Linked DNA regions of Homo sapiens. The protein of the gene in region 1 purifies or fractionates together with the protein of each later gene. This does not show direct contact. Each region holds a gene or a part of one and is shown on either strand. Other genes may lie near its edges.

Region 1 (3,500 bases):
TGCCTTCATGAACAGCAAGGGGAGTAAGATCAACATCACTGCATAAGGTCACTGTCCAAGGGATCCACCAGTGCCTGTGGCATGAGCAGGTATGGAATACAGACCTGACGCAGTAGTCATGAACAAAGAGAGCAGCAAAGACAGTGGCTGAGTCCTGGATCCAGTGAGACATCCAGAATTGGCGGAATGATCGAAAAAGTGCAGCAGCCTGGCCTACTCACCTTGTGTGCAGCCAGCTACAAGGAAAGAGGTTTCTTTTCTTTTCTACTAATAGTTTTCAATAGATGACGAGGTCCCCTTTTCAAAGTTCAGCTACATCTACTAAACAAAGGGCAAACTTCATGACTGTGCAGTATGAAAAGCATGACTCAATCCCACAAGGATCCGTAAGTCACCTATTATGCCATCTTAAAATACAAACATGAAGTCAGGTGTGATGGCTCACACCTATAATCCTAGCACTTTGGGAGGCTGAGGAAGGTGGATCACTTTGAGCTCAGGAGTTTGAGATAAACCCGTGTAACATGGTGAGACTCCATCTCTACCCAAAATACAAAAAATAAGCTGGGTGTGGTGGTTCGCGCCCGTAGTCCCAGCTACTGGGGAGGCTGAGGCAGGATTGCTTGAGCCCCAGAACCAGAGGTTGCAGTAAGCTGAGATTGCAACACTGCACTCCAGCCTAGGTGACAGAGTGAGACCCCATCTCAAAAAACAAAAAAAAAACCATGATTTTGATAATTGTACACTGGTCCTGTAGGAAAAGTCCCTGTTCTTAGAAATAACTAATGAGTTTAAGGGTAAAGTGGTACAATGTGTATAACATAGTCTCAAAATGGTTCATGAAAAAACTGTATTTATGCATACAGGTGTGTGGGGAGACAGGGAGAGGGAGGAAGGCAGGGAAGGATGAAGAGAAGGAGAGAGGGAGGGTGAAGAGAAGGAGAGAGGGAGGGTGAAGAGAATGAACTGTAAAGCAGGTGGGGCAACATATAAACAATAAGTGAATATAGGTAAAGGGCACATGGGAGTTCCTTACACTATTCTTACAACTTTTTGGTAAGTTTGAAATTATACAAGATAAAAAGTTACCCCCTAAGAGTCCCCTCAAAAGAAAGACAGCAATAAATCCCACATAATAAAATATGCTGTATTTTTCTATTGTTTCCTTGACACGTCACATACAAGTGCTGTAAAGAAACAGTTCTGCTGCATTAACTGTATTCTGAAGTCTACACCCTATCTACATTATAGTTGATTTGGGAAAATAAGGCTTCCTCTGACACATCCCTAGGTAGGTACTTGCTATTTTCTTAAAAGTAAAAACACTGCAGGGATAGGGGAGGAAATGGGAAAAAGTCATGTCCAAGAAAAAGCCAAAGATCCCTAGCAACTTTTACACAGTAGGGAAATAAATTATAATGAGGTACAAGTAAATCTGGTTATATTTAAATCATACTATATTTTTATGGCTAACGAGGGTAATATCCTGAAGTTAAATAGTCTATATTACATTTCAGCAGATTTCTACACAATGAAACTGGAGCTATTTCCAAAATATATTAGAGATGTTTTTCTCAGGTTATGTCTCAAAAGGCAGATACTGTACAGATGTGATTTCCCCAGAATTTCTGATGTGGTACTTCACCTGTAGTGATCCCTTGTCTTTAATAGTGGGAAAGAAACAAAGAAATGAAAATAAATTATGACTGTGCTTATTTTAGACAAAGCTGCTATGCTGCATTTGTTCAAGAAGTGCACATTAATTTACCAATTAATAACTAAACATAATAAAATAAAGCTCACTAAAAATGAAGCACTAATCTCTTGATCATTTTTTTAAGTAACTGCCATATTATATGCCAAAATTTTCATATTAAAAATCTTACTTTGAAGGCTACAATTGGAAAAACTTTGCCTGAGAAATGTTAATTCTGTTCAACTTACCTTTGTCTGCTCTTTTCTAAGTTGTTTTAATAACGTTAAATCGTCCAAATTCTTTTCTCTCTCTTCTCGGAGGTTTTTTACTACTGCTGAAGTCTGGGCTATACAGTTTTTTATGACTCTGTCTCTACTGGCATGAGCTGCCATCAACTAAAAGAACAAAGGAATGAAAGGAGAAAAAAAAACTGCATAAATTTATCACATTTTAGTGTTTTTCAAAAAAATCCTTGAGACTATAGAAATTCAATACTTTCTAAAACAATTTCTGACGACTGAAACCATGAAAGAGAAGATTGTGTTGAATCAGCTACCTCATCTAAAAACATAACTGGCAGCATCTCTGAGGGTGGAAGGTATGAGGTCTGGGGCTGTCCTCTTCCTCAATATGCTCCTGGTATTGACTTCAGCTTTCCTTCTGCATTCCCCAAGCTGGGCTTTTCTCACTTCAGTTTCCTCTGCCCTACACCACTGACTTTCCCCATGATTCCATTCATGTGTTCCTCTATTCTACAACCACCCGCACACACCTGGCCACTTAAACGGCTATTCTTCCTCTCTTTGTCCTTTCATATTTTTTCCTGTCTCACATTGTCAACAAGTGAAAGAAATTATAAACTAAGTCATGTATAGAAGATTTCATTACAATAAATAACAAAGAATGCTACCTTTACCTTCGCAAGACAGAGCCCTTTTCAAGATTATAAAATATAAGTATTGATAAGGAAAACTTATATATGAAGCACAGATTAGTGGTTGCATCAATTGTGTGTGCTTATTGAAATTAAGGATGTCTGACAGAACAACTCTTGATAACCTCCATCTTAATGCAACAAATTAATAAAAACATTTCTCATTTATTTCCCATCTTGATTCTAAAGTATCATGGTCATGTTTCAAACATACTTCCATAATCATAGCCACATTTTGATAATACCCCAAAATCTGCATTTGTTAAACATTGTTTCAAGTTCATAGACTCTATTGTTCAGTATTGATTTTTATGTTTACCATGGGAATAAACAATGTAAAGCTAGAAAAATGTCATAGATTGAAGGGAATATGCTCTAATAAGATCTCATTGAAATTTACAAGTTTTACCTTGAGTATACTTTTGAGATTTGAAATTTCTAAAATGAGTGCTTCATAATAACCTTACTGATCAACTCCTAGGAAGAAGCGTTATTTGAAAAGGCAAATATCCCTTCTTCAGCTACAGAAGGAAGCTGGGTCAGGGATTAAAGTCAGGGTGAACATGAGCAACTTGGATATTTCATAGAGTTCTGCTTCTTGACTGACATAATACTTAAGGGAACTCAGTGGTGCTTATTGGTATGGGCACTCTGCTGCAGGCTCGATCCCTGGCACAAAGCTACTTGAAAAATTAAGCTTTACTTGATATACATGTTGCTGAATCCTTCCAGGATATAGATACAGAGAAAAACTCAAACACACACACAGGATTTCCAAAACAGAAGAGTTCTAAATTTAGTATGCAAGCTTATCCTGATTCAACAAGGAGATAAAAAACAACAACTTGTGATTCTCACAGGGCCTGTTAA
Region 2 (3,500 bases), on another chromosome or scaffold:
ATCCTGATCAGCACTCACTTCCCAAGCTTCTGCTTAGACTTCAGGCTCTGATTACTCAACTCCGCCCCACCACTTCCTCAATGCTGCAGAAAAACCATCACAAGTGAACACCCGCCAACTGTGGATGCTCTCAAGGTGGAAGTTCCCCTTTCCTTCCAGTCTTGGCCCCACCATAAGCCATCAGTGTCTGGCCCTTCAGCCTTACTCCAAGAACAGCCCCAGGTGCTCCAGGACAGGCTGGCCCTCCTTGGTCTGCAGCACTTCTCAGAGACACTCTCGCCCTTCGTTCCATCAAGAAACTCCCTATCAAAGGATCCATTTCACCCCTAATCACCACACTAAGGAAATCCCGAGTTCCTGGGGCACATCTTCCTAACGATCGGGGTGGGATCATCCTGTACAGCAGAGAGGACGTCACTGGACACCTCCCCAAGAGCTGAGTTTGAGGGCAAGGGACGCGCTGGGCTTTCCTGCTTGGCCTTCTGGTTTGGAAAATCATCGCTTGCTATTTTCAATAAAGACAGCACAGGCTGGGTGAAGTGGTTGACATCTGTAATCCCAGCACTCTGGGAGGCTGAGGCAGGAGGACTACTTGAGGCAAGACCAGCGTGGACAACAGAGTGAGACCCTATCTCCACTATTTAAAATAAATATTATAAAATAAAAAAAATAAAGACAGCATGGCCAAAGCAGGTGGGTTAACAAGACCCTTCCAAGCCAACACCTGTCAGCCCAGGCACCTGGTTCTCAGGCCCCAGGTACATCCCCAGTGCCTACAGGGATTAGAGCCATCTACCCAGCCATTCCCTCATTCTCCCTGGTTCCCAGGTTCCCCAGTCTCGTTTCTCTTTTCTGCCCTTCCCAGAACCCCAAGATCACGGTCAAGGCCCACCTCTGGCCCCCTCCCCAGGTCCCCACAGCTCTTATCAGATATGTAGCCCACCCCTGGAGGCAGTCCTCTAAAGGGCCAGTGTCTGCCCACCCCTCTCGGGGGCCAACAAGCCTGGATGTCTGTCTCAACTAAATGTGCTGCAGGCTCTGCTGGCCTGATTTCATTTTTCAAAGGTGCAGTTCATATTGGGAACAGAGTGGAAGTTATCACAGGAGCTTCATGCTGACACTGCAGGAAAGAGAGACGGAGCCCAGTGACTGGAGGCACTATACTGGCTGACGAACCTCACCCAAACTCGAGTTTAACTGGAAGCTGGGGCGGGGTGGGGCTGTGATTTCAGAAGGAAGCAAAGAACAAGGCTGCGCCAGGAGAGGAGAGTGGAAGAAGTTCAGAGAAAGAGTGAGACAAGGGAGGTTCCGTGACAGTTTTCCGTTGTCCAAGAGACTGACTCTGAGTCAGCATGGCCTATGAACCTTCTTACAGCAAATCCTGCTGCCAGATCCCCACATACAAGGATGTCAGACCCAGGAACCGTAAAAGGACAGAGGACAAGCCAAGCCTATGTGTTATTCCCTGCCCTTCGTAAAAGGAGGGTTCTGTGTCTTGGTCTTTCCAGCAGTCACCTATCGTGGCTAGGGAGAGCCTCAAGAGATTTCCTGCCCTGCTGGTTTGTTGCACAACCAGAAAGAGCCACGCACACTTGCCAGCCGAGTCACGGACGTCCCAGAAATGCACACACTTGATCCCATCAATAATGCGTCCCCGGCCGGGTGTGGGGGCTCACGCCTGTCATCCCAGCACTTTGGGAGGCTGAGGCGGGCGGATCACTTGAGGTCGGGAGTTTGAGACCAGCCTGGCCAACATGGTGAAAGCCCATCTCTACTAAAGATATAAAAATTAGCCGGGTGTGGTGGCACACACCTGTAATCCCGGCTACTTGGGAGGCTGAGGCAGGAGAATAGCTTGAACCCACGAGGCAGAGGTTGCAGTGAGCGGAGATCGCACCACTGCACTCCAGCCTGGGAAACTGAGCAAGACTCCGTCTCAAAAAAAAAAAAAAAAAAGGGTCCCCAGACATGCACAGCCCCAGCAGATAAAAGGGGCTGGTTTAATCTCTACTCATCCAGCATACCAACAGCTTGGGACAGGTTGCACACAGTTACCCAGATATACAAAGTAAGTGCCATTTTTCAACTGAAAGTGGCACCACGAAATTCACATTGAAATATTTATGTTAGAACAAATAAGAAAACTATATAAACAGGATAACCACTCAGAGCCCAGCTTAGCCAATGGTCACAAACAGTTACACACAACTATGGACCAGAAAGTAAAAGGACTTACCTCATCTACAGACACAGGCAGGATTACTCGACTATAAGAAAGGGAAAAGAGAGTATCAACTTTAGGCTGTGCAATCTGCTCAAGGCTCTTTAAAGCATCATCCTAAAACAGTCAGCAGCATTCTATTGTGTAAGACACTAAATTCAGTGACGAAAACCCCACAGAGAATGGCCCTTTGAGTGCTCTGAGGACAGGACCCTCTGTGCCCTAGAGGTGTAAGACACTAAACTCTGTGACAACACCCCCCCCCCGCCCCCCCCCCCAGAGAATGGCCCTCTTAGTGCTCTGAGGACAGGACCCTCTGTACCTTGAGGCATCCCAGTTAGAACCCTGTGATTCAGTCCAAACCTATCCTCCCGCCAGCTACTTCCCAGGCCTCCACCTCACATTCGGAACTGGACATATGGATGATAAACTTCACCCAAACTTGCCAATGAGTCGTCCCCCCAACAAGACTTGCCAGTGAGTCTAGTAAGACAGGTTAACACAGGAGGACCTATCATGGTGAGGATTCAGACCCAAACAAGAGGCCCTGGGGACTTAAATTTCTGTGGACCCAACCTCCCAACAACAGCCCTCCAGGGGAAGGGCCAGGAAGGGACCAAGCCCCTTGAAGCCTAAGAACACACACCGGGCATCTCTGCTCGGGGCTGGATATTACAATCCAAGCTGCTACCACAAAGCCACCAAGAGGGCATTCAACTTATGTCCTGACCTCCAGGAGCTGTCCAAAGGAATCCCAATTTATCATTTTCTTTTCTTCTTCTCCAACTCAATGACCACCAATTGCTGGAGATGCCACCAGCAACCTATTGGAGAAGCCGTGGCCGGCAAAGTCTCCGCCAGGGCCAGAACCCCACAGAGGTGCCAGGGCTAGCAGCACTTCTCCAGGTGCCGTGCATGTGAAATGCAGACCAAGAGCCACCCCCAGTTCAAAGCTGTGAGGCGGGAGAGCTAAGACAAAAACTCTTGGTTTTACCCATACAAGTCCAGCCAGTTTCCAAGCTTAGACGTTCGGTCCCCAGACCCTTGCTGGAGCCCTCTGGGTCCTTTTGTGTCTTGCATGTTTAGTGAAGCATTAGGGAAGCATGAGCTGCTGTGCCTTCCTTATGCAGCCGGCTCACCACTCAGGCTCCTTGCTCCAGGCTAGTAAACAGCTATTTTCTAGTTCCACAAAGGTCCCCCAGGAAGCAAGAAGGACACAGAGGGGTCTGAGGAAAACATCACCTCAAAGGCAAGACACCAAGCAGGAAAGTAGCAGGAA

The links. Proteins that work in one complex are often made in the same cells at the same time.
Region 2: the proteins of MIX23 (region 1) and PITPNA fractionate together in Homo sapiens (co-fractionation; one large-scale study listed by BioGRID). This does not show direct contact.

The regions. Positions count from the first base shown.
Region 1 is NC_000003.12:122,366,232-122,369,731, forward strand, and holds part of MIX23 (protein MIX23), read right to left. Parts: intron 2,092-3,500; coding exon 1,945-2,091; intron 1-1,944.
Region 2 is NC_000017.11:1,556,293-1,559,792, forward strand, and holds part of PITPNA (phosphatidylinositol transfer protein alpha isoform), read right to left. Parts: intron 2,268-3,500; coding exon 2,237-2,267; intron 1-2,236. UniProt on the Homo sapiens protein: Catalyzes the transfer of phosphatidylinositol (PI) and phosphatidylcholine (PC) between membranes. Shows a preference for PI and PC containing shorter saturated or monosaturated acyl chains at the sn-1 and sn-2 positions.